Linked DNA regions of Homo sapiens. The protein of the gene in region 7 purifies or fractionates together with the protein of the main gene of each other region. This does not show direct contact. Each region holds a gene or a part of one and is shown on either strand. Other genes may lie near its edges.

Region 1 (4,230 bases), on a different chromosome or scaffold from region 7:
TTGACCCGGCTGTACCCTCTACTCAGAAAACCCTCTCCATCCTCTGTGCTGCCTGGCTCTGTCCCCAGCACCTTGGAGGCTGATTAAGTATTGTAGTCATCTTTTTATGTTTACCTCCACCAACAGACTATGAGTGCCCATCACTGTTGACCTCACATCACCAAACTATAAGCATTTCCAGGGCTGGGACAGAGTTCCTGCAATCTCTTTGGTGCTGACACATAGTAGGTACTCAATTAACACTTGAGCTAAATTGGATTTAGCAGCTTGATCAGAAACGCCTTCCCCAAAGATCCCCTCCGTCTCATTATCCCTGCATCTCCTCCCCAGCCCTACTTCTCCTTCACTGTAAATCCCCCAAATCCCACCTGTCCTTTACCTCCCAGCTCAAGGATGCACTCCGTCCAGAAAGCCTTCCCTACTACTCTCACCCTTGGTGAGCTCTCTACTTCATAAACTGTAGAATCTTTAAAAGGTTGTTTTGAAGATTAAGTCAGATCATGGAAGTAAAATATTGGAACACGACTGGGCACATCATAAAGGCTGGATAAACTTGGGCTAGTCGTTAGGAAGGAAAAGAATGGCCTCTTCCTGCTGCTTCCACTTCTGAAAGCCGCCAGAGGGCGTCCACTACCCAACATTCCCTGGCAGGGGGTGCGGGAGAAGGGGCCCTTCCCCAAGAACAGAACTTCCTAAAGCGGATGTTTGAACCTCGCAGTTATACAGAAGACTTGTAGGAAGGATGGACAAACGTTCTTAAGCCCATGACGGCCCTTAACCTGGTCGCTCCCTTTTCTGATGGAGACTCAGGCAATAGCGTGTGTGCGTGTGTGTGTGTGTGTGTGTGTGTGTGTGTATCCGTGTGTCCTAATATCAGACATTTGTTCTTGTTTTCCAGGCAGCGTCTCTCTAGCTTCTTTCTGCAATGCTGTAGTACTCTCTCCAGTATTTCAGGAGGAGGAGCATTTGCTATTTCAAAAACGAAAAACAAAAACCTGGCCACATCCATTTTTTTCAGCAGCCATGCGATTTCCATCATTGCTCACATTTTATGGATGAGGAAACTGAGTCTTAGAGGAATTCAGTAAGTGATACCTCTCTCGGATGTGTTGAGTAACTGAGACTGCACTCCCTCCCAGGCTGGAACGTCCTGGTACTCCCACCCCCACAGGCTCAGTTCTGTGCATTATCTGCCTTTTTCGGGGATTGTGACCCTTCTTCACAGCCTCCTCCCTCAGAAAGCCACCACCATCAGATCCGATTCTCCATGGTACAGCTTCTTCTTTGGTTCCACTCTCCAGCACCCTGGGGAAGCAGGAACAGAGGCTGCTGCCACTCTCTGACCTCTAAGGGGTTAAGGCCTGGGTCCCGCCCCTCTTCCCGCCCGCCTGGCGGGAGTATGAATAGCCTCGCTCCCACTCCCGACTCTCAGTCGCTCAGGCTACTCCCACCCCGCCCCGCCCCGTCATTGTCCCCGTCGGTCTCTTTTCTCTTCCGTCCTAAAAGCTCTGCGAGCCGCTCCCTTCTCCCGGTGCCCCGCGTCTGTCCATCCTCAGTGGGTCAGACGAGCAGGATGGAGGGCTGCATGGGGGAGGAGTCGTTTCAGATGTGGGAGCTCAATCGGCGCCTGGAGGCCTACCTGGCCCGGGTCAAGGCGCTGGAGGAGCAGAATGAGCTGCTCAGCGCGGAGCTCGGGGGGCTCCGGGCACAATCCGCGGACACCTCCTGGCGGGCGCATGCCGACGACGAGCTGGCGGCCCTGCGGGCCCTCGTTGACCAACGCTGGCGGGAGAAGCACGCGGCCGAGGTGGCGCGCGACAACCTGGCTGAAGAGCTGGAGGGCGTGGCAGGCCGATGCCAGCAGCTGCGGCTGGCCCGGGAGCGGACGACGGAGGAGGTAGCCCGCAACCGGCGCGCCGTCGAGGCAGAGAAATGCGCCCGGGCCTGGCTGAGTAGCCAGGTGGCAGAGCTGGAGCGCGAGCTAGAGGCTCTACGCGTGGCGCACGAGGAGGAGCGCGTCGGCCTGAACGCGCAGGCTGCCTGTGCCCCCCGCTGCCCCGCGCCGCCCCGCGGGCCTCCCGCGCCGGCCCCGGAGGTAGAGGAGCTGGCAAGGCGACTGGGCGAGGCGTGGCGCGGGGCAGTGCGCGGCTACCAGGAGCGCGTGGCACACATGGAGACGTCGCTGGGCCAGGCCCGCGAGCGGCTGGGCCGGGCGGTGCAGGGTGCCCGCGAGGGCCGCCTGGAGCTGCAGCAGCTCCAGGCTGAGCGCGGAGGCCTCCTGGAGCGCAGGGCAGCGTTGGAACAGAGGTTGGAGGGCCGCTGGCAGGAGCGGCTGCGGGCTACTGAAAAGTTCCAGGTGAGGAGGTTGAGGGCCTGGGTGAGAGAAAGTCCCAGAAAGCTCCAGAAAGTCCCTTATGAAGCTCAGAGACCTTCTGGGAAGGGAGTGGGGCTAGCTGGCTGCTGAATCAGGAGCCAGTTCTCAGAAACCTGGTGCCACAAGTCCTAGACTTTTACAGCCCGTCTAGTGTAGGATGCGAATGGTGGGGCTTCTCGAAGCACATCCCGGGTGGGCAGTCAGGCCCAAGACCCGTTGCAGCAGCCCCGCCACTCTCTGGATGGCACCTTCTGGCTCTGATGATGACCGGGGCTCCGGGTCCCTTCCCAGGCTCTGGTATTACTAGGAGGACACCCAGCACTGTCGCCTCTGCGCTGAATCTGGTGGCCTGGCCACTCAGAATCACCAAGTTCCTCACAGCCCTCCTTCTCCTGAGGGGAGGAGTGAGGGGCCGTGAATGAATGGCTACCAGCCCCCTCCCATGTCATGGCTTCTCGGCTCCCTGGAGCACATTCCAGAGGCCCATAACAGCTGCTCCTTCTCACAGGGCACAGATGTGACCAGCAGCTGAGAAAACAGCTTCTTGCCTGGGCCACACAGAGGTGCCATGGCCACCTCCCCATCCCTCCTCTCAGAGGAGACAGAATCCAGAACATGTGGGAAATGGGGGTGGGGCGGGGGTGAGAGCCTGCTGTGAGGAGCAGGAGACAGTTGTGGGAGATGGGACCAACGGGGGACGGGGGCTGTTTGCCTTCCAGTCCTGCAGGCTCCAGGCATCTTGATTAATCGTTTTTCCTTCTGCTTTCGCTTTTTTTTCCCCCTCTTCTCTCTCCATAACCCATCTCGTCTCCTCCCTCACCTCCCCTTCCTGTGGGAGCTGTGTTCTGAGCAACATGTGCTACCATTTAATCAGCATCCTCAGAGGAGGAGCAGGCCATGGGAGAGAGCTGAGAGTGCTGACAGGGGCCCTGGGCTCATCTTGGCTGATCCAGAGGGGGCTCTCTGGGCAGGGAATAGGGTAGGGGAGGCGGGGGTCTGCTACACAGATAAGTCAGCCAGGGAGCAGGAGGTGCTTCCCGGGCAGCGGCAGCGGGCAGGAGGCAGGTTGGTTCACAGAAGGGACCCCAGCCCCTCCACTGACTGCCTCTCGCCTGCCCTGCAGCTGGCTGTGGAGGCCCTGGAGCAGGAGAAACAGGGCCTACAGAGCCAGATCGCTCAGGTCCTGGAAGGTCGGCAGCAGCTGGCGCACCTCAAGATGTCCCTCAGCCTGGAGGTGGCCACGTACAGGTACGAGACGAGCCCTGTCCACCCAGGCACACAGAGGCACACACACATGCTGGGGCAGACTACGTGGCTGAAGGGGACCAGAGGTGTAGGTGATGGCAACTCTGCTGCCACTGGGTTCTGTGACTCTAGGCTGGTCACTTCCACACCGGAACATGTCCTGCCTGAAACCGTCTGCTCCCCCATAGGCTGGAGACCTGAGCAATGTCCTGTGCCCAGGAAATCCCCCCAGGAGAGATGATATTGCCGAGCGGGACAGCCTCTGGAGAGGGGCTGGGCCCGTGTGGGGCAACTGCATCCAGACCCTTCCCCCAAGGGGCAAAGCTCCAACTCTATGTGTGCCCGCACCCAGGGGGTCATGTCCTTTGGCAGCCACGGAAAGGAGGCATTGCAGGCATGGGGTGGCTGCACTGACTTGCCACCTGACCTGGGCCTCAGCCTCGTCTAGGGGCTGAGGGCTGGGCTGGGGGACTTCCAAGGCCTCTTCTAGCCTGGATGTCATGGGGCGAGACTCCTCTGATGCCCCTAGTGCCCTTGGTCCTGCCCAGCCTTTCATTGTCCACATTTTCTGTTATCCTAGAAATGGCTGAGACCAAGGAGGGGTGGCTTCT
Region 2 (3,500 bases), on a different chromosome or scaffold from region 7:
ACCTCTGTCCCTTGGGCATCTCCTGGGGTTGGTCCTTGCCTCTGGTCCCAGTTTGCCCTTGGTTGTCAGGCTCCAGGTTCCTGGCTTCCTGCTCTGTTTTCAGAGTCACACTTCCCATGGTACTTCACAGGATGAAAGGCATCACGATCCAGGGGAGGCTTACGGCTGGCTGGAGGGAGCCTGCATTTTCTAATGGCCTTTATTAGCCGGCAGGGTACATTCTGCCAGCCAGTGCAGAGACAGCTGTTTTTCACTTCACTGACTTTGGAGAAACTGTGAAACTGTTTCTATTCCCTCCCAGTTCTTTCTGCCACCTTGGCTTCCCCAGGGCTGTCAGGAGTGTGAACCTCAAAGAAAGGGTACGTAGCAGTGGGAGGCCAGGCAGCAGCAGACCAATCAGAAATGCAAGTGTTCTTCTTGAGTGAACGTTTAAGGTGGACAGCAAAATTTAAGAGGCGAAGGCACAAATACTGGAGGTCTCAAAAGGAGAGGTGCTGCTTGTACCAAATAGGCCATGTCTCTTCATCTGAGTGCGCCTATGAACAGGCATGCTTATGCACACCATCTTTTGCTCTATATACTTCAAAGCAGAATCAGTCCTAGAATAACAGAGCTAGATGGCCCTCATGGATCACCTGGTTCAAACCTTCAGTTTATCAAAGCAACTGAAGCTCAAGTCACTATAATTAGATTAGGATTGCAGCAGCAGTATTTCCTATAAACCCCACCCTCCCAGTGAACACAAAATGTGCCAGAAGGGTCCAGCCAGCTTCTGCATTTTTCTGTCAATAGCAGCAGGGCTGGGAAAAAGCTGAAATGCTTAGACTAGCAACTCCCAATGCAGCCCAATTCTACAAGTAAATAGTAGAGAGGTGGTATGTCCCAGGGAATGGTCCCAGACGTAATGCAGATCTGACAGCAAACCCTTTCGACACCCTTCCCCTTTTTTAAAAAACAGAACTTGGGCACATTTTGGTCTACCCATGAGCAAATACTATTGGCTTCTCATTCCCGCTCCTTTCCATTTCTCCTGTAAGGTAGGTGGTGTGCATAAGCATGCCTGTTCATAGGCACGCTCAGAGGAAGAGACATGACCTATTTGGTACAAGCAGCACCTCTCCTACCTTAGGTAGGTGTAGCAAGATAGAATGGGAACCAGGTATCAAAGGTAAGAAGAGGTAATCCAATCTTGCTGAGCTTGAGAAAGTTATGAGGCTAAGCAGATATGAGAAACAAAAGACACAGGACTATGTATCAATCGATGTGCTCCTTCCTTTGTAAATGCTGTATCTCATACAGCCAGCCAGCTGGTAGCTTTTAAGTCTTAGAAATAATAATTAGAGCTATTTAATATCTCTTTACCCTCATGAAGAGCACATAAGTTAATACACAAGAAATAATAGCCTAAATGTCTCATGTCAACCCATGAGAAATTGTTGAAGAACAGCTGAAGAAACACTGATATGAATAAGTGGATAAATAAGCAGAGAGGAAGAGTAAGGCTAAGGAATATCCGGAAATTTTCCTAACAGTAAAACCTATTAGTCTCTAGAACAATGCCCCAGGGAACCCGTGAAAGGCCAATCTTATGAGTTATTTAAAAGTGGAGTGGACTTAGCCATTGGAATTATTCCATGGGGGAAACCCTTGCACTGTGTCGGATATGGACAACACTGCCTAATGGCTTGTTGTCATGTATAGTATTTTCCATGTTTAGCATGTCCAGCTTGTTCTCTGGATTTAACAGGAAACATAAGAAGAAAATGTAAGAAGTTGGCCCATGAGGAACTGCTAAAATAGGCAGTCGGGACTACGTATCTTGCCGGAGTCTCTTAACAGGGGCACAGCTGGGGTCATGAGGTTAGCCTAAATTCACAAGGAGCAAAAGGACAACCTGGTATTGGAAGGAAAGTAACTGCTCATGAAACACTGATAGAAGCTCCTTCTGGCCACTGTGGCGTGATCTTAAAATGGGCCAGTGCCAAGTTGCCCCTTTCATCACGGGCTTCATCAACCCACTCCCCATGTGTGACCTTCAGACTCTGTCCCCCGCTCATTAGATCTTCCACATTCTGTGTCCTCCCTTTATCGCTTTCGCTCTCACTTTCCCTTACTGCCTTATTTCTGCATTAGTGGATGATGGATGGATGCCCCTTCACAAACTTACCCACTCAAAAACCAAATGCCACTTATGTATTTTGAAATTTTTTGTTTTTATGGCAAGGTACATCTTGGTCTAGCTGTTAAATTCACTATTGTGACTTCCCTGAGTTTCAATGCTCTCAACTGGAAAATGGTGAAAATAAAACCATCTCTATTTACATCTCAGGTTGTCATAAAAAAACAAGTAAAAGAATGGATGTGAAATGACCTTGCAATCCTAACTACTGCCGAAATGTAAGGTGGTGCAGGTTCTTGGTTCTCGTCCATTTCAATGTTGCCCATCTCAGGAAAAAAGGTTTGAGGGCTTCTATCTTTTTATTATTAACTTGTATTATACACCTCCTAATAACTGAATATAAGAGCCACGAAAACAATAGATACTCCAAACATACTAGCTGAACATAAAAGATTGGAGAGTGAGGGGGAAAAAAGAGGGTCTCTTTTGAAATCATTAATAATAATTTGATGCTTTTGGCTGACCTGTTTAGTAAATTTCAGCACAATAATGCAACTGAGGAAAGAAGGGGAAAAATAAGATTTACTGAATACTTTATATAAAGGTAATCCTCACAACATTACCCCAATTTACAGATGAGAAAACTCAAGCCCCAAGGTCACAGAGCTGGTAAAAGGACAGGGTACAAACCCAGGTCTGCCAGATTCAAACTCACTATCGCGCCATGTGGCGTATTTGCTTTTGTCACAAGTTAACTTTGCTTTATCCTATAAATATATACCATTGATGTCACAAGACTATATGTAGATAATTCAACACAACCCAGACAGGCAGGATGGGGTCAGCACTCCCAATGCCCCTGCAGCTGCCACTGTGGTAATGTTACAAATCACATGGTACAAACAGGCACGTATGTTAGAGACCAGCATTGAAACATACACTTTGTCACAACCACTCTTTTCCACTGACCACCAGCTCAATAAGGCACTATTATCAAGTTAGAAAAATCCATGAATCAACCTACGAGTCTCAAGTCCTTCAGTTCATATTCATATTGAAGGCTGGGGTTTATTAACAGCATATCAGAAGCTGTTTTCGACAAATAAAACGTACTAACTTAACATTAGCAACATTACCTGTACCAAAGACCTTTAATGAAAAGGATCCCTGGCATACTACTAAGAGTTATACAAGTGCAGCTACAAGCAAGAAACAGAAAAAAGCTGCCAGCCACTAGGCTTTTGAGGACAACATAGGCTTTTAATAAATCTTGATTATATTCTTTCCACTAATGTTACTTTATTTTCCAGCTATCCAGATAATACTAACCCTCCCGTCGGATATTTGTAGAGTATAAAAATTTTACACCAAGTGATATTAT
Region 3 (3,500 bases), about 110 Mb from region 7:
CAAAGTGCTGAGATTACAGGTGTGAGCCACTGCGCCCAGCAGACACATCTATTTTTAAATACCATGGATAAGTTTAATCCTCCTTTGATAGAAATAAAAGTAAAACAACACTAGTAAACTTTTAAAACAGGGTGTACCTTTTTCAGGAACAATATGATTCAAAGGGTGGACACACTAACTTCAATCTATGCTCATGTGCAAATTTGAGCAACTTTCCAAATGAGAAACAGATATAATACACAGCATTATTAAGTCAACAAACTTAATATGCTGACATGGAAACAGTCACTCGCACATGGCCCTACTGTATATTTATTAACTATATTTACTAACACTAAGTATAACTTCTACCGTTACCCCTGTTTTTCGTTATCCATTCCAAAATGCTTTTGTTGTTCTTTCTTCTCCTTTAATTTTTGCCAGTTCTACAACAATACTTCCAAAGATATAGAATAATGTACTTTAAGCCCCAAAAGAAAATTCTGGAGAAAAAAAAGGAATCTATTTTAGAGAATAAACTTTCTTTGGATAGACTTTGTCCAACCCAAGCACAACTCAATGTAAGCTTGAGATATATCTTTTAAACTTTTTATTATACGGACATAGAAAGACTATTCCAGCATCAGCCCCCTCCCCGCACTCCTCAGTCTGCTTCAATAATCAGTAACTCATCGCTAAGCTTGTTTTCTCAAGACGCCCATCCTCATCCCCAACCCCAGAGTATTTCAAAAGAAATCCAAGATCTCATATAATTTCACCTATACATATTAAAACAAGCATTTGAAAGTTTCAACAAAGCTAATTATTACAAGAGACTCTCCTGTCAAGCACATGTCCCTACTAAGAGTGCATATTCGTCTTACCTTTGCCTCATTAATGGAATATTAATGCAATTAGCAGCAGCTACGGCAGCAAAGGGAACAAAACGTCCTATCAGTGGTGAGACATGCTGCAGAGGAGAAAATTTCAAGAGCTTTATCTTATTTTTCCTGTACTAGTAAATGGAAATAACTTATTTCTTCTTGAAAACTCTGAAAAATGCAGAGTCCCATTTGCATAGAAACTCAGGCCAAGAATGCTTTCAAAACTTTTCCTAGCAGTATTTGTATATTTCCCACATGGGTGTGCTGGGACCATGCAAGCTTCTAAGGCCTTGTAGCTAAGTGTGGTTGCAGGAGTATGGGCTTTGGAGTGGGGAGAGAGAGAGAGAGAGAGAGATGCTCTTGCCTCTCTTCAGAGCTGTGGCCTGAGGCACACTGCCCTCTGCAATGCCTCTGGTGGGCTGTCAGGATGGGTGAACATTTAGCACTTCGTACACAGAGTCAGGCACAGACCACAGTCCTGGTAGGTGTTACTGGTGACAACTCTTCCCAAACTTATTGGAAGATATAACTAAAATATGCAGCTGAAGATAAGCACTATAACAAGAAAGCCATATGACTTGAACTAGTTTAAGAAATAATAGAGGGATTTAGAGCCAGGCAGGTGATAACAAATTAAACAGCTTTATTATGGAAATAAAAATCTGAGTACCTTGGTCAATGCATTGAGTCCTAGAGCTGTTGCTACGGCACCAGTTGTTGCAGAAACGTAAGCTGTTCCCAACTCACTGAAAAGAAAAAAGGATATCGTGTGGACGACGAGGGCATGTCAGGAAACTCTGGTGCAACATTATTTGAAGAAATAAAAGGGAAATATAAAAGAGCATGATTCAGAATGAAGAGTCTACAAAACAACATTCACTATCACTCCACAAGTAGGGGAATCTAGAGAAAAAGCAAGCAGATCCATAAACAATGGGATTCTTCACACGTATCTTGACTATAACTCCAAAAAAGTAGACATGTATTCTTTGAAGTGAGTTGGTTAAAATAAATAAATAAACATACAGACTTTGTATTCGTGAGAAGGAGGGGAGCTGTGTGTAGGAAGCTATGAATACAGGGGAATGCATATTGGGCTAAATGTTTGGGGCATATTTGCTTAAAAATATTTCTCAAAATATTAATATACACACTGAAAGCAAAAATGAAGTGCTGCCATTTAAAAAATGATATCTTAACTGTATAAAAATACTAAGTCTTATCATCCAAAAACTATAAAGCCCAAGCAATTCTCTCTTCTTTTAAAAGAAATTTTAATTGCAATAAACACCACTTGGCTGCAGATTTCAAGATCCTTTGTTCCATATAACAATAGTAGAAGAATATGTGTTGTCAAAAGCAATTTTAAGTGATAAAAAAGAGAAGCACTTTTCTTTCAAGTGTAATACAATTATGCTAACTAACGTTTTTGGTTAACTAATCTTGTGAGCCTATTTTTTTTTTAACAGGTGACAAAAAATTAAAACTCATTGCTTTCTTTTGGACTCCACAGATGAGCTATTTTAAAAACATATCAGATATAAAGTTCACACCGCCATGGTCTCCCCTTGATTTCTGCAGAGACCACACTTTGTCTCCTCTACTCTTAACGTTGGTGTCTGTCAACTCAGGCAGGGTAGATGGCGGAACAGCCTGTCACTTATCAGAGGCCAGGCCGGTGCTGCCTGCCATGTGTTCTACAGGGCCATGAGCTCCAGGGTGAGAAGGAGGTAACATCCTACCAGTACCTCCAAAGGCACGAGTAATGTCTGAGAAGGCAGGCTGGAAGAAGACTGTTTTCTTGATAGGGAGAGAGAAAATGAAACACTTTACTTTAAAAAAGAAAAAAGCTACAAAAAAGGATGCTACATAATATTCTGAACAATATAAAAATATGCACACATAGGCTTTTTTAAACAGGAGAGTATCACCACTTAATAAAATGAAGGTTGAAGAACTGCAGAGAGTGGTCAATTCTCGTAGCCTTACTTGACAGTGAGGGGTGCGTCTCCACTTCTGTTGGTGTAATTGACGACGGCATTGAAGGACTGGTTAATCCACTGCCAGAACAGCACAGCCGGCGTAGTCCTAAAACAGAGGCATCCGTCACATACCCACCATCACTGGGCCCAGCCGCGGCATGGAACAGAAAACGTGAACACCAGTAACCAGAGAGGAGACGTACTGGGGAAGGGAGAAAGCCATAAGGCCACACAGGCTTAGGATCTGTGTGCTGGGCAAGCTTTTATCCTCTGGGATCATCAGTTTCCTCATTCCGTAGATATAGATAACACCAAGCTCAGAGGGTTACTATGAGGATGAAGTAAGATAAAATTTGTAGAGAGCCTGGTACAGAATAGACATTCAATAAATGCCAGATCCCTTCTCTTGGGGAAAAAAGATACAATTTGTAGGCTAAGCGGTCCTGGGCCCTCCTAACAGCACTTGCAATGCTATATGTCTATGTCTACACATACACCTTTAATGTGCCTATATCTACACTTATACCTATACCTATATCTATATGAATGGAGTCAAAGGAGAATTTGCCTGCAGACTCTTTATTTTCCTTCTCCACTTCATTCTCTTTTGGGGCTAAGATTTAGAAAAAAAATTCAACCTCCTTTTGAACAACTA
Region 4 (4,067 bases), on a different chromosome or scaffold from region 7:
AAGTAAGCAAAAGTTAAAGAAAAAAAAAGGAGGCTAGTAGTTCTCAATGTCAAGTACTTAAGAGTTGTTGCATGAATACTGGAGATAGTCAAATGAGCCAGTGGCTCTTTAACAATATAGGGAATTAGGAGCAAGTATGAGATTCTGATTATAAAGTTGTAGGAAAACTAACTTCCCAGAAAAATGCACATAGAATTATGTATACAATGTCAGGCGAGTTATGAACTCTGAAGCCCAATCACCTACCACCAGATCCACAGACCTCAGGTTAAAAACCCACTAAAACTAAGTTCTCGGGGAACAGGAATCGCCAAACTTGCTTACTAATTCTAATTATGCCTTACCCAGGGCAATGTATACAAACACTACTTAGGGAATATTTGCTGATCGATAATTTCCTCATAAAAATAACCATAACACTGGCGAGTCGTTTTTTCCACTAAAGAGCCTTTTAGTCAAATTATTTTAAAAGTCCTAAACCTTTCACTAGTAACACCAATGATCTCGAAAATCATTATTGCGCTATTCACATGTCGACTAAGCTATCACGAATCCAGGTCTTCCAGTTGTCTCTCTACTCCCTTAAAATTTAGGGCTTCCTCCTTCGCATCCCAAAAGCTACACCCGGAGCCCCGCTGCCGCCAGGGAGACAGAAAATGATGCTCCACGAAGCACACAGCTTCAAAACAGGAAAGATGGGATCCAGTGATGGCTACAACTTCCAAACCCTTTTCTCACCAGGTCCAGAGGTGAAGGGATTTACCTCAAGTTCCAGGAAAGCGGTGGCGATTGCTCTCAAATACCTGGTACCTCCCCGTCACCATAGTGACTTCTAAGAGTTACGCTCCCTTCCTCTTCCCGCGATACTTCTACGCGGCACGTCATCCGAGTGGGCCCGAGACCCCGCCTCTCGGCGAGCCCGCCCTCTTCTGAAGAGGCGTTTCTGGACCACTGAGCCCCGCCTCCCACTGTGAGCGGAACCCTACCGTTTTTAAAAAAATCTTTTTCAAAACTTGCCAGGTTGTCTTTCCAAATATTTTTAATAATAGTGCTGCTGCTGTAGACCACAGAGAAAAGAATCCCTCGCTCTTCCTTTTCACTTAGTAGAAACTTCTACCGCGTAGGTCCCGCCAGGAGTTCGCGCATGCGCAGGAGCGACAATAAGATGGCGGTGATAATCGCCGCACTTTTTTTCAAATTAGTGGATCCCAGAAATCATTGCGCGCATTTGTAACGAATTTCCGTTCGAGTTTGTATTTTAGGCGCCATTTTCGAGTGAAGGACCCGGAGCCGAAACACCGGTAGGAGCGGGGAGGTGGGTACTACACAACCGTCTCCAGCCTTGGTCTGAGTGGACTGTCCTGCAGGTAAAGTACTTCTCTTCCTGGTCAGGTTGTCACGCTCTTACTTCCTGCCTTGTCCGCGAGCGCCTGGAAAATAGAGGCCTTGAGCCCGAGCGGCGAAGTCCGGGCTTGAAGCTGCCGCTGGGAGATTTCTCTTGCTGTCACCCCTCCCCCCTCGGCCGCTCCCCGGCGGCCCGGGCTCCCGCGCGCAGCTCCCGGGCGCCACTTTTCCAAGCTACTCAAATGTCTCGGGGAGGCCCTGAGCCTCGCAGATCTTTTCTTTAAAAAATCCTAGTCTCTATCTGGAAAAGGGCGTCTCCCCCTACCCCTCTTCCTTCTGCCAACGGACTAGTCACCGGGTCTCAGCCTTCGCTGGTGACCTTTCATGGTTTACTGTCCAACGGGACTCCGCCTGGGGAGCTGGAGAGACAAACTCTTGCCACTCCAAAATTAGCAAGCGCTGCCAGCGTCCGACTTGAAGTTGCTAGTGGTTAGTCCCAGCCTTCGCCCTTCGCGGTCCGACCGCTGAGAGGAGGGAGACTTCGTTATGCCCCGGGCCGTCAACGGCGCCAGGAGCTAAAGGGCGGGCAGACGAAAGCGGGCGGCGAGTCGCCAGTTAGTCTTCACCGCTCTGGAGAGAGTTGCTAGCCACGGGATCCTGACCCGGACACGAACTCGTTTCTCCACGTCGGTGCGCGCTTGCATCCCTGGCCCCGAAAGCGTGGGAATGTCCGGAAATGCTGGCGTATGGGAGTTCCTTAATTAGAAATGCGTTAGCGAATATTATACGCTTATACTATGGGCGGACGGGTGGAGAGCCTTAAAAACAACAACAACAAACTAAGCAGTTGCTCAATCGTTGATTGATCCTCAGGCACGTCTAGATTTTCCCACTTACATAGGTCTTGTTAAGAAACCAGTCCTGCCTTCTTGCCACTCGTGTCTTTCGATGGCTCCCTTCCCGAAGTCCCGCTGCCTCTAAGCGGAGTGTTAAGCGGGGCTCTCGGAAGCCGGTGGACCGAGATTTCCCCGGGTGGGGCGGGCGCGGTGTAGCGGCCCGCGGGCTGACTTGCTCCCGGCTGTCCCCCGGCCCCAGCGACCATGCCCCGTAAAGGCACCCAGCCCTCCACTGCCCGGCGCAGAGAGGAAGGGCCGCCGCCGCCGTCCCCTGACGGCGCCAGCAGCGACGCGGAGCCTGAGCCGCCGTCCGGCCGCACGGAGAGCCCAGCCACCGCCGCAGGTGAGTGACCCGCCGCGACTCGGCGGGAACGCGCGCTGTGGGACTGGCAGGCAAACGCGCCCAGCCCGAGGCTGGCTGGGGTTGTTGAGCGCGGAGTTGACATCTGAAGGTCCGGTGTCGGTCCGGTAGAGGCTCAGGAAAGCCATTTGGCAACTTTGAGATAGGATTCCCGTGCAATTTTGGTGTAACGGCGCTGGAAGGGATGGGGGCGAGCAAACGGGTTCAGTTGTGAATTTTTGTTTGTGACCTGTGGAATGGTACAGGTCACAAACAAAAATTCAATATCTTTATTGTATTCCCGCTAAAATCGAGACGGTCAATCAAGAGAGCAAGTGGACTTTTTTCCCAGAGACAATCAATATGACTATGTGAGCATGATGAAAAGTTTTTTGACCCTAACCTCACCTCCGTGGTGTTAGATTGCCGTTAAAGAGAAGACGATAATTTATTTGAAGCCACTGTAGCTTTTGTGAGTCCAGGAGTTGGGTGACATTATTAAACCCTCGTGGCAGTGTCGCTGAAGTTCATGAGTTTCCAAAATGAAGGTTCCAGGTGCTCAGCGGTACGGAGAATTGCATCTAGAGCCTTAGGATTTAACCTCCTGTTTAGGATAGGCAGCAGGAAATAGCTTGTTACGGTTTTCCCAGATTTGCTCTATGATGTAGTGTTTTGACTCTTAAGAGGTATAGGTGTATAGAATTTTGTGACCGGTGGCATTTCTTTCAAGAATTTCTTTTTTAGTAAAACCAAGCTGAAGGTTTAGTCACCCCCGTGAGTTTAAGATAATAACATATTTAAGTGGAAAATATAGACTCCTAAGTTTCATAAATAACATCCCTCCATCCCCTACTTTAAAGATGGGCAGTCATTAGTTCTCCGAACTAATTGCACTAATGTAGGCTTTTCCCCCGCCGTTTGCCTTCGTTTTCCTTTCCTTTCACTGACTTAGAGACTGCAAGTGAGGAACTTGATAATAGAAGTTTAGAAGAGATTTTGAACAGCATTCCTCCTCCCCCGCCTCCAGCAATGACCAATGAAGCTGGAGCTCCTCGGCTTATGATAACTCATATTGTAAACCAGAACTTCAAATCCTATGCTGGGGAGAAAATTCTGGGACCTTTCCATAAGGTATTTGTATGGAAATAACTATTTTATAACTTTTTAAATAACTATTGTAAGGTAATACGTTTTTACAAGATGTTTCAGTTTTGTAACTATCCTAAAATTCATTCACTCCCTATTTATCCTGATAGTCTTTCTGTCTCTCTCTCTCACACACACACACACACGTTTCATATGATTTTAACACTGAAATTATCTTTTGTTTATCTGGTTATCTTTGGTACCTCTAGTTACAAAGTTTTCCATTGAATGGAGTCGGTGTGTGTTTCTGTTTGAAAGAGTATTTTCCCTTGGATAATTTTTTTTTCTTAAAGCCTTCTATGGAACCCTTAGATAATTTAACTATAAAATGAGTTTTCTAA
Region 5 (3,500 bases), on a different chromosome or scaffold from region 7:
GATTCAATGAGAAAGATGTCTGTCACCTAATAAATGCCTTTTTTTTTTTTTGCCAGTTATGAGGAAACTAAGGCTTAGAAAAGTGAGAGTTCATATTCAAGGTTACGCAGGTATCAGTGAGTTACCAGCCTACTACTCACTCACATAAGGGCTTTCTGCTATTTTATTTATATCAGAATGCATTTCTGAATCCTGACAGATGAGAGTCATCCCTTGGAGAACATGTATCTATTAAAACTCACTCCAGGTTGCTTTAGAGGCTTAGAGCAGGTATTCTTACATTTCCAATAAAATATAGTGTGTGATCGTCAAGTGATTAGTGCAGCTTCTAAGTCACTGATGAGCAGCCACTAAAGTGGATACAAATGAGTTTTTCCTAGACTTACCTCTTAGCGCACAGTTGAAATGTAGAAAGTGAACATTCCTTAGGATTCACAAGAGGATGGATCCTGAATAATTTAAGGATAGCTTTAGGAGCCAACAGTCTTGAAAATGGTAACTATGTGAGTAGTGGTAGTGTGATTTAAACCTACAAAAATGCTGAATAATAGAGGTTTAGAGCTGCAATGTGCAATAGAGATCATGTTGTCCAACTTTCTCATTTCACTGGCTTGAATCACATTGATCAACAGTCTGAGATGCAGGAAAATTGAAGTGTTTTCCACTCAGCTACCTTGCAACAGAATCAGGCCTGGGAGCAAGGATTCTATTCCTGTGTCCTCCCTTAGAATATGAACTTATGAATGCTGAAGATACTTCATATCTTTCTTTAAAGGAAATATGTATCTGACTGGAAAATTACTTGTAGCATATCAAAGTGGGCCTAAAAAATAGCATGCTTGGTATGTCACTTGAAGATTGACCTTGTAGTAATAACATATTTGAGTAAGCTTCTTGAAGTGTAGCGTAAGGAAAGATTATAATGCCCTTCTTTTTGTAGATGCAGTGTTTACATTATAATTTAAAACATGAATTTTTTTTTCTTCTTTCACTGAGAGCAATGCAACTTTAAAGCAATAGTCTGACATTTAGAGCCATTATAACAAATGGATTTATGGTGTATACACACCCACAGGCAGAAATACACATATAGATAAGGGCAGTTGAACCTACTGCATTAATCCCTGTACCCTGAGTTTGCTCTTTAAAGTTGAAAGTGGTATTAAACTAATGATGTTAATTGTATATATTGGCAAAATACCAATAGGGCTCTTTTTTTTGTCCTATAACATGGAATCTGGAGGAAGGATCATGCTCAGCTCAGGAAGCTAGGGCTGCAGGTCCTCCTCTATCTGAGTCCCTTGACTTGGCCTTGCCAATTGGTGACTTCATCCTCAAGGTGGTTGTAATAGCATTTTGAGCATCACATCTAGATATAACCACTTCTTGAGGAGGAAATGAATACCTCTTCCATTGGCTTCCTAAGAGCAGAGAAGCTCTTTCCTGAAGGCCCCTAGAAAACCTTTCACTTCTCACTGGCTAGAATTGTGTTTCTTGCTCAGTCCCTAGCCCGGGAATGTGATCATCACAGTCAGTTAAGACCTGCAGGTTTACCCCACTGAGGCTTACAGGGAGAGGGCGGATGTCTGTTAATGAGGAAGTATGGGGGGGCGTGGATTTTAGGTAAGCAGTATAAATGGGTCTGCTAATTCTGCTACCTTTATTTTCTATACCCAGGCTCTGTCTCTGTGATGCTAAAACAATGAGTCAAGTTGACTAATGTGACAGTGTAGTTTAATTGGTGCAGTGAGTAGCAGAAATCGGTTATACTGGTTTGATCAAAAGTTTGACCTGTTTACACTTTATGAACAGACTCTCTTTCAGATTGCTGGAATTCTGTTGTAACGAATCAACCCTATATATCCTTAGAATGCTCCCTTGCATTCAGTAACCATAGCTGTGCATGTTATAATGTATGTGCATGGAAGGTGGCTCTACGGGGGTGATTGAGGGACTATTACTGGACAAAAGAGATCAGGTTAAAGGCTGTTGATTCATGGGCTGCTATATTACTGTCCAAACCACCCTTTTGCATTTGGATCACGTCTTGGTTAGAGGGGGGAAAGTAGCACTTTTTGAGAACCTTGAAGAAGTGGGAGACTGTTCAACAGCTGCCTGTATCTCAGTGGTGGCCAGTAAACTGAAACAAGTTTATAAGGGAATAAAAATCAACCAGTGACAAGGGGTTCTAATGTTAAATGCATATATTGGCAAAATGCCAGTAGGGCTATGTAGGGTGGTGAGCACTCACAATTGTTCACTAAAATGCTGTTTTTAAAACAGGAAAGTAGAATGGTTGAGTGCAAATCCATAGCATGAGATAAATTGAGCTTCTTAAGGCAAATCAGCCTAGGCAAATTCATTTCCGTGTTTTTGTGTATTTGGAGATGCCAGCTCGTCACTCAGCCCATGGAGCTTACAGGTCCTGATCACTTGATCTAATTGTATGGATGTGGTAGTTTGTCTTCCCTGGGGCAGAAAACAAAGCTTTAATTTGGAACTAAAATTGTTATTATTTTGCATCTAAAGGTATGAGTTTATAGACTTTTGATGTTAGATTTTTAAATTAGAAGGTCACTGAAAATTTCCCTTAAAAATGACCCCAACGAATTTGTGTATTTTGTATAAATTGGTTTGTTATATTAAAGCATACATACATAATCTATATGTGATTATGTATTCATTAGGAATCAAACTGAATTTTGGCCATTGATGCACAGCACTGAATGTTGTGGAATGTAATTTTTGTTTGTTTTTGTTTCTGTTTTTTGAGGCAGAGCCTTGCTCTGTCGCCTAGGCTGGAGTGCAGTGGCGCAATCTCAGCTCATTGCAATCTCTGCCTCCAGGGTTTAAATGATTCTTGTGCCTTAGCCTCCTGAGTAGCTGAGATTACAGGTGCTCTACCACGCCTGTTTAATTTTTGTGTGTGTGTGTGTGTGTTTTTTTTTTTGTAGAGACAGGGTTTCACCATGTTGGCCAGGCTGGTCTCGAATTGCTGACCTCAAGTGATCCACCCGCCTCATGCCTCAGCCTTACAAAGTGCTGGGATTACAGGCATGAGCCACTGCGCCTGGCCGGGGAATGTATTTAAAGATATAACACAAGTATATAACTGAATACCATTGTGAAACATTAATTATCAATGTTTTATTGTGTCTTTTAGGTGTTGAAATTCCGTAAACTTAACTTCAATGGGGAGGGTGAACCCGAAGAACTGATGGTGGACAACTGGCGCCCAGCTCAGCCACTGAAGAACAGGCAAATCAAAGCTTCCTTCAAATAAGATGGTCCCATAGTCTGTATCCAAATAATGAATCTTCGGGTGTTTCCCTTTAGCTAAGCACAGATCTACCTTGGTGATTTGGACCCTGGTTGCTTTGTGTCTAGTTTTCTAGACCCTTCATCTCTTACTTGATAGACTTACTAATAAAATGTGAAGACTAGACCAATTGTCATGCTTGACACAACTGCTGTGGCTGGTTGGTGCTTTGTTTATGGTA
Region 6 (3,500 bases), on a different chromosome or scaffold from region 7:
AGAGCAGAGGAGAAACACCTCACTGCAGTTTCAACATGCTTTCCAAGAACAATATATACGACATATACATTTTCCTGCCTCTCTCTTGTGACAATTTCTGTTAGAATTTGTTGGGGGTCTGATGGTTAAAATCATGGGCAAGGCCATTCTCTACATCATTGCTTAATATTTCAAAAATAGGTATTAGAGCACTATCAGTGGTCCAAAATTAGTTTTAGCTACTTATTTTGCTCCATGGGTTTTGGGCTTTTCAAAGAATACTATGTATAATTTGTAATTGAAAGCCTTTCAGTAGGATATCCAAAGTTCAATGTGTTTCAAAAGGGAAAACTTTTACTTGTGGGGGTGGGAGTTAGATGTATTAAAAAAACGAAACTACAAAATCCTTTTAAGAAAGTAATACCAATTTAGACTCTAGTTTGTGTTACGAGGTATTCTTTCAAATTTTTTTTAAAAGCCAACTACTGTCATTAAGAAATAATTTTAGATTTGTGCTCTAGCAGAAAATAACTCTGTACCCATCAATCTTATTGCCAACATTCCATACCAGTGGTAGGAAAGATATTCTCATTTTTTTTATTGAACCAGACATTTTTATAAAATACTGATTGACTTTGTACATTATGGATATTATATATGAAATTTTGCCTTGTATTCTTTCACTTGAAAAAACTCCAAAATTCCACAATATTTTAGTAGTTAACTTCCTATTCTTTCTTAAATTTGATGGAGAAGGGAAAATAAATTGCAGTTATTGATTCTTGCCATCTTTGTTTTCTTAAAGAAATCTATGCATTTTAAGGATAAAACTAAAGCATATGGGTTTACATGAAACATCAGGATGGATTATTGTACATTGAATTCATTCCGCGTATAATGTGGTATTTCTTACTCTGTCCATCTTGGTAGCTGTCACTTCAAAAGAAGACAGTTTCCCTGAGTAATCATCACCTACATGGCCATTAGAGTATCTATCGGTGATAATTCCATGATACAGAGTATCTTGGCATTATAAATTCAGTATCCCAGGACCTAAACCTTTATGCTACATTTTCGAAGATTTTTTAAAAATAATATTGTTAATCAGTAAAAAAAAAAAATATTTTTGATCTAAACATAGGTTCTGCATATCTGTTAGATTTTAAAAATGACTGGTGTTTTGTCTTCACATTTTTGTCTAAGCAAGGAATATAAGATTTCAAATAAAATTTTGAACCAAAAACATTTATAATGCCGTTCTGGTTTTTCTATTACTTTTTATACTGTACTTTAAAAGCATTAGGCTGAAAGAGTTTATTTTGGTGGTCAAAAAAAATATGCTTCCACTCATGTAACTATTTTAAATGTTAAGAAGTAAAATAATGAAAGATATGTTAATTACTTTATTCAGTAAAGTTTTTTAAGAATGTTTATCTCAGCCAGTAGGCAAATACTTGGTGTAAAACAAGTTGGTCTTAAATTGTTGCAACTCATTAGCTAGTGAAGATATTCATGTAAATATATTTTAGGATTGTAATTAATTTTGAAAATGTAGAAAGCTCTTTATTCCATGTAAGTATGCAGGATGCCTGCTTTTTTATGCAGTTGTGGAAAGAATGTAAAATGTTTTAATATATTCTTTGTTAATCTGAGAACTTGATACTGAATCGTTTATGTGGGAGAAGGAAGGAGTAACATAAAACATGTTTTTATCACTCAAAGTAAGCAATGGAGGTAACAAATATTGTGCATTTTAACAGTAATATTTGAAGATTTGTAGAATATTCACCTTTAAAACTAGTTAGTATGCATTTATAATTTTACCAGAATATACAACTAACAATTCAACAGTGATGTTCTTTGCATTTGTGGGGAGATGTGTGATGTTCTTGGTTTTCTGGTTTGGAATGGAACGTTTATAGCCTTGCCTGTAAAAATGTGCCCCAGCACTTAATGAGTGACCGTTTGAATCCATATGTAGTCCCATTGGTGCTAATGAGAGTAGCTGCTGTGAAACAGGAATAAAATGTGTCTGTTCACGGAGGTGCGGTGTGGATGCACCTACAAGGCCAACTCTCTGATCAGGGTGAGGGAGAGATGGAAGAATTAACAGATCTAAAGTTGGCCTTTGTTGTCTCAAATTGGGTTTGTACACACATGCATGCATGTGTGTATACAACTGTAATCTGGAACTTCAGGAAGTAAAATTATTTGAAGTTTCTTAGTAAAAAGTAATTAGGTATAATTCCAAATAGATTTCTGTATAAATTGTATCTAACTGGATTACAAGTCAGTTTGACAATTTACGATGTCTCAGTGATGTTTCTGCAATAATTGTGAAATGCATTATTGATTTAAATAATGCTGACACGTACTCTTTAAAAGTGTTCTTTAACACTGACTACTAAACTTTAAGTTTTAAAAAATAGGTTTTCATTTATGGCTTTTTGTGGTTTTAGCACTTTAAGAAGTTTAATTTTTTGTAATTTTTAATATGCTCTTTCAGTGTATCTCAGCGGGTACTCCAGCTTGTGGCATTCCCATGTGACTGGGGAGAAGACAAAATTGGTGTTTAGATTCTGGAGGAGAAAAAATGAGTTACAATGTCAGGTGTTTTTAAAAATTCCTTTTAGAGACAGTCTTTTGGGAACCAAAGTATTTTACTGTAAATCTTTAAAATAACAGAATTCAGTGCTCTTTCATTTGTTAATGCTGTCCAGATTTTTCACACAGTTATACTCAGTTAATACTAGTTTTCAGAACATTAGTCCAAGGCTATTTCAAGTTTTCCATTGAATATATGCTTATGGTTAAAAGAAAAACGAATGGTTTTATAATTCTGTGTATTTTGTCATATGCCTTAGCAGAGTAAGTCATTTTTCCATTTTACTTAGGAATAAGCTTTTTCGAACTGAAAATTCATGGTAAAATAGGATTTCTATCTAATGTTAATCCATTGCTTATTTGTATTCAATTCCATTGTCTACAGTTTGCTTAAATGTTGACTAAGAATGATTGGAGTCAATAAATTTGTACTGTATTTTGCTTCGAGTCAGTCTCAATGGTATGCCCTGTACTTTGATAGTAACCGGGTGTAGCATTTACATTTGTGAAAGTAAAGTTAAAATCTTCCTATTTGGGTAATGTGAATAGCTGTGAGAGATTTAATTTTCCCCCGTTCCAGGTTGCTTATAGAATTAAGGTTGTATTAAAGCTTTAGTTATTTGGGCATCGCAAATACGATGATTAAAACCAGATAGGCAACCATCTTTGCTCATCTGCCATTTCCTTTACTATTCGAACTGGTAGTTTTTAAGTTGATGGGGCAGGGGGGTAAATGCAGAAAAATAACATTTTTAAGTACCCTGCATTGATATTTCTGCATAGCAGTTGATAAACCAGTTTTATTTGATAATCTAAAGAATTTAATGTCATAGCTTTTTTTTTTCATTCTAATGAGGTTTTTCTGTAAAACCGGGGTATATCATTTTTAAAAATTTTATTAGCTCTCCCTGTAACGT
Region 7 (3,500 bases):
CCAGATCTTATTCACAGACTAAGTACCTGAATGACATTTGCTAAGTTGTGTATCCTGCTAAGGTCTTGATTTTGTCCCAAAGATTTTTTCCAGCTCTAGAATAGATTGAACCTTATAATTTAAGAGATATCCTGGACATTTTATATATTATCCTTAAATTTGAGGAACGCATTTTTAACAAAGGACTTTTATAGTCATGATCTCATTTGATCTTACAATAACCTTGTAAAGTGGGTGGATAGGTAGAGAAGTTAAATCAGCGTTCTTGGACTCTTTATGGGCTTCCTTTCTACTATTCATTATTTAGCCTTTGCTCTGCTTTTCCTGTTTACATACTTTCCCTCCTTCATCCACTCACTTGGTTTCTTCTCCAACCTCCCTACTCTCTTCCACATCCAGTTTACCACCCCAACCAACCAGTTCATATTTGCCAACTTTCATGTGGGTAATAATTTTAGTATGTGAACATGTGCATATGTGTATGTATGTGTTTTTGTTTTTAGGTGTTAATTAGGCATAATGTACAGAAAAATGCTCAAAAAATTTGTTGAGTTGTATAAAAAGTGTACAACTCAACAAATTTTCATAAAGTGAGCATCCCATGTAACCAACATTCAGATCAAGGAATATCATATTACTAGCACCGCAGAAGTCTCCTTTCCCCCACTTGGTCCCTACCTCCTTATGAAGGTAACTGCTATCATTATTTTAAATATCATGGATCGTTTGGCCTGCTTTTGAGCTTCAAGTAAATGGAATCATATAGTATTTACTTTTCATATGTGGCCTGTTCATCTCAATATTATTTTCTGAGATTCATTTATGTTATGGCATGTAGCAATAGTTCGTTCATTTTCACTGCATTCTATTGGTGAATATATTATAACTTATTATGTTGATGGACATTTGGGTTGTTTCTGCCTATTATGGATAGTGCCATTATGAACAATGTGTCTTTTGGGGAGCATATATATGGATTTCTGTTGGGTATATGCTTAGGAGTAGAATTGCTGAGTTATAAGGTGTTCAGATATTTAGCTTTTGTAGATATTGCCAATCTGTTTTCCAAACTGGTCGCACCAATTTACATTCCTTACAGCAGTGTATGAGATTTCTAGTTCTTTCACATTCTTACCAGCACTTAGTGTTGCCTACCTTTTTTCTTATTTTTTAGGTCTCTAAAAAAAATTTTAGTTTTGTAAGTTGTAAACTGACAAATTATAGTTGTATATATTCATAGGGTACAAAATGATGTTATGATTTACGAATTCAATGGAATAATTAAATCAAGCTAATTACCATATCCATCACCTCAAATACTTAACATTTTTTTGTTGTACACTTGCAATTTACTCTCAGATTTTGAAAGTACATTATTATTAATATCTTCACCATGATGTCAAGATATCTCAAATAAAAAAGATAATTTCCTGTCTAGTTGAGGCTTTGTACCTTTTGACCATTATCTCCCCGTTCCCCACTCCCCTCAGCCTCTGGTTACCACCATTCTGCTTTTTGCCTCTTTGAACTCAATTGTTTTAGATTCCACGTATAAATGAGAATAGGCATTATTTGTTTTTCTGTTCCTGGCTTATTTCACTTGGTATAATGTTCTCCACTTCCATCCATGTCGTTGCAAATGACAACATTTCTTTCTTTTTTTAAAGGCTGAATAGTATTATATTGTATATGTATACCACATTTTCTTTATTCATTTATCTGTTGATGGACTTTTAGGTTGATTCCATAACTTAGCTCTTGTAAATAGTAAATGACATGGGAGTGCAGACATCTCTTTGACATCTTGACTTGAAATGTTTTGGGCAAATACCCAAAAGTGGGATCAGTAGATCCACCTGTCTTTCATTTTAGTTATTCTGACAGCCATGTTGTGATATTGACTTGTCGAGTTCTTTTACATTGCACTGATAATTAATGAGGTTTAACATCTTTGTATATGTTATAGGACATTTGAAGATCTTTTTTTTTATGATATACCTGTTTAAATTTTTTTTTCATTTTGTAATTGGAATGTCTTTTTCTTATTGATTTTTTTTGTTTTGTTTGGAAATGATAGATATATCTTATCCTACTCAGTGGCTTGCCTTGTTTCTGTGTGTTTTTAAGTTAAAAAAGATTTTAAATTTGGACTAACTTAATTTGGAGCATGACTCACAACAGTGTCAAAAGAAGTAGAAAGATTAACGTAAGAATAAAAAGCTATTTCAGTTTGGCCAGGAGGAAGACATGACTAGCAATTAGTGGGATTAAATTTCTTGAGGTTGAGAAGTTGGTTAAAAAAAGTAGAAAAAGTGCTGGGTGTGGTGGCTCATGCCTGTAATCCCAGCACTTTGGGAGGCTGAGGTGGGTGCATTACCTGAGGTCAGGAGTTCAAGACTAGCCTGACTAACATGGTGAAACCTCATCTCTACTAAAAATATAAAAATAAGCTGGGTGTGGTGGCGCATGCCTGTAACCCCAGCTACTTGGGAGACTGAGGCAGGAGAATCGCTTGAACCCGGGAGGCGGAGGTTGCATTAAGCTGAGATCATGCCATTGCACTCCAGCCTGGACTATACGGTGAGACTCCGTCTCAAAAAAAAAAAAAAAAGTAGAAAAAGTGAAAGATCGATTAAGCACTTGCTTATTGACTACCTAGTGTGGGTCACACACTGTGCTACACATCCGGGGTACATGCATACACAAACCCCACTTCTGTCCCTCAAGCTCCTGCTGTTGTATGCTCAGGAATTATGAATGTGGCTGAGAAGGTTAGCCATCAAAAATAAAAGAGAAATAGGATAATAGTTTCTCAGGTGGTTGGGCAGCAGAGAGTATGAAGAGAAATCTGGAAGAAAAGTCATGATTAGAAGGGAAAACATGACCCAAGGTTGGGCAAAAACAAACAAACAAGCAAAACAAACAAAAAACAACTCTGAGATCAGAAATACAGTTTAAAGAAAAAGATGACGTCAGAAAAATCTGATTTAAATAGGAAGAGAGGTGAGAGACAAAAGATTCGGAGTTTATAAAGTGACAGACTTGAAAGAGAAGAGTAAGAGAAAATGAGAATATGACTATGAATTTTAAGGACTTTAGGAGGACTGGCAGGGAGCCTACGTTCCTAAAAAGATGTTGAAATAATTATGTAGAAAGAAATTAGAAATATGTTACACAATAAAAGTTGCCTTATATTCCTTCTTCAAAAGAGATGACTTTCCTTTATTTTTAAGTTTGTTGTATATTCATTTAGCTTTTCATATGCATATACCAAAGCAGATAGGATCAGATTATATATAGTGTTTTGTACGTTTTTCTTCCACTTTGTTATATTTATGGTATCTATTTCTGTCTGGAACTATTGATAGTATTTTGTTTTGTGGCTATTCCACGCTTCAGTCAATTTTATTCAAATTAGTTCTAGTTTTTCTCTGATTATAAAATGGCAAATTAGTTCTAATTTTTCTCTGATTATAAAGCATAAATATACTTATGTTTAT

What was found.
Region 1: the proteins of DEPDC1B (region 7) and NES purify together in Homo sapiens (affinity purification with mass spectrometry; one large-scale study listed by BioGRID and IntAct). This does not show direct contact.
Region 2: the proteins of DEPDC1B (region 7) and CHCHD3 purify together in Homo sapiens (affinity purification with mass spectrometry, with the first as the bait; one large-scale study listed by BioGRID). This does not show direct contact.
Region 3: the proteins of DEPDC1B (region 7) and SFXN1 purify together in Homo sapiens (affinity purification with mass spectrometry, with the first as the bait; one large-scale study listed by BioGRID). This does not show direct contact.
Region 4: the proteins of DEPDC1B (region 7) and SMC4 purify together in Homo sapiens (affinity purification with mass spectrometry; one large-scale study listed by BioGRID and IntAct). This does not show direct contact.
Region 5: the proteins of DEPDC1B (region 7) and CA2 purify together in Homo sapiens (affinity purification with mass spectrometry, with the first as the bait; one large-scale study listed by BioGRID). This does not show direct contact.
Region 6: the proteins of DEPDC1B (region 7) and ZBTB21 purify together in Homo sapiens (affinity purification with mass spectrometry, with the first as the bait; one large-scale study listed by BioGRID). This does not show direct contact.

What each region holds. Positions count from the first base shown.
Region 1 is NC_000001.11:156,674,608-156,678,837, reverse strand, and holds the start of NES (nestin), read left to right. Parts: upstream 1-1,430; 5' UTR 1,431-1,573; coding exon 1,574-2,356; intron 2,357-3,497; coding exon 3,498-3,622; intron 3,623-4,230. UniProt on the Homo sapiens protein: Required for brain and eye development.
Region 2 is NC_000007.14:132,792,091-132,795,590, forward strand, and holds part of CHCHD3 (MICOS complex subunit MIC19), read right to left. Parts: intron 1-3,500. UniProt on the Homo sapiens protein: Component of the MICOS complex, a large protein complex of the mitochondrial inner membrane that plays crucial roles in the maintenance of crista junctions, inner membrane architecture, and formation of contact sites to the outer membrane.
Region 3 is NC_000005.10:175,509,560-175,513,059, reverse strand, and holds part of SFXN1 (sideroflexin-1), read right to left. Parts: intron 2,952-3,500; coding exon 2,853-2,951; intron 1,610-2,852; coding exon 1,534-1,609; intron 950-1,533; coding exon 864-949; intron 1-863. UniProt on the Homo sapiens protein: Amino acid transporter importing serine, an essential substrate of the mitochondrial branch of the one-carbon pathway, into mitochondria.
Region 4 is NC_000003.12:160,398,383-160,402,449, forward strand, and holds the start of SMC4 (structural maintenance of chromosomes protein 4), read left to right. Parts: upstream 1-1,267; 5' UTR 1,268-1,367; intron 1,368-2,176; exon of another isoform or gene 2,177-2,439; 5' UTR 2,440-2,444; coding exon 2,445-2,583; intron 2,584-3,532; coding exon 3,533-3,711; intron 3,712-4,067. UniProt on the Homo sapiens protein: Central component of the condensin complex, a complex required for conversion of interphase chromatin into mitotic-like condense chromosomes.
Region 5 is NC_000008.11:85,477,507-85,481,006, forward strand, and holds part of CA2 (carbonic anhydrase 2), read left to right. Parts: intron 1-3,163; coding exon 3,164-3,283; 3' UTR 3,284-3,500. UniProt on the Homo sapiens protein: Catalyzes the reversible hydration of carbon dioxide. Can also hydrate cyanamide to urea. Stimulates the chloride-bicarbonate exchange activity of SLC26A6. Essential for bone resorption and osteoclast differentiation.
Region 6 is NC_000021.9:41,986,361-41,989,860, reverse strand, and holds the end of ZBTB21 (zinc finger and BTB domain-containing protein 21), read left to right. Parts: 3' UTR 1-3,030; downstream 3,031-3,500. UniProt on the Homo sapiens protein: Acts as a transcription repressor.
Region 7 is NC_000005.10:60,690,167-60,693,666, reverse strand, and holds part of DEPDC1B (DEP domain-containing protein 1B), read left to right. Parts: intron 1-3,500.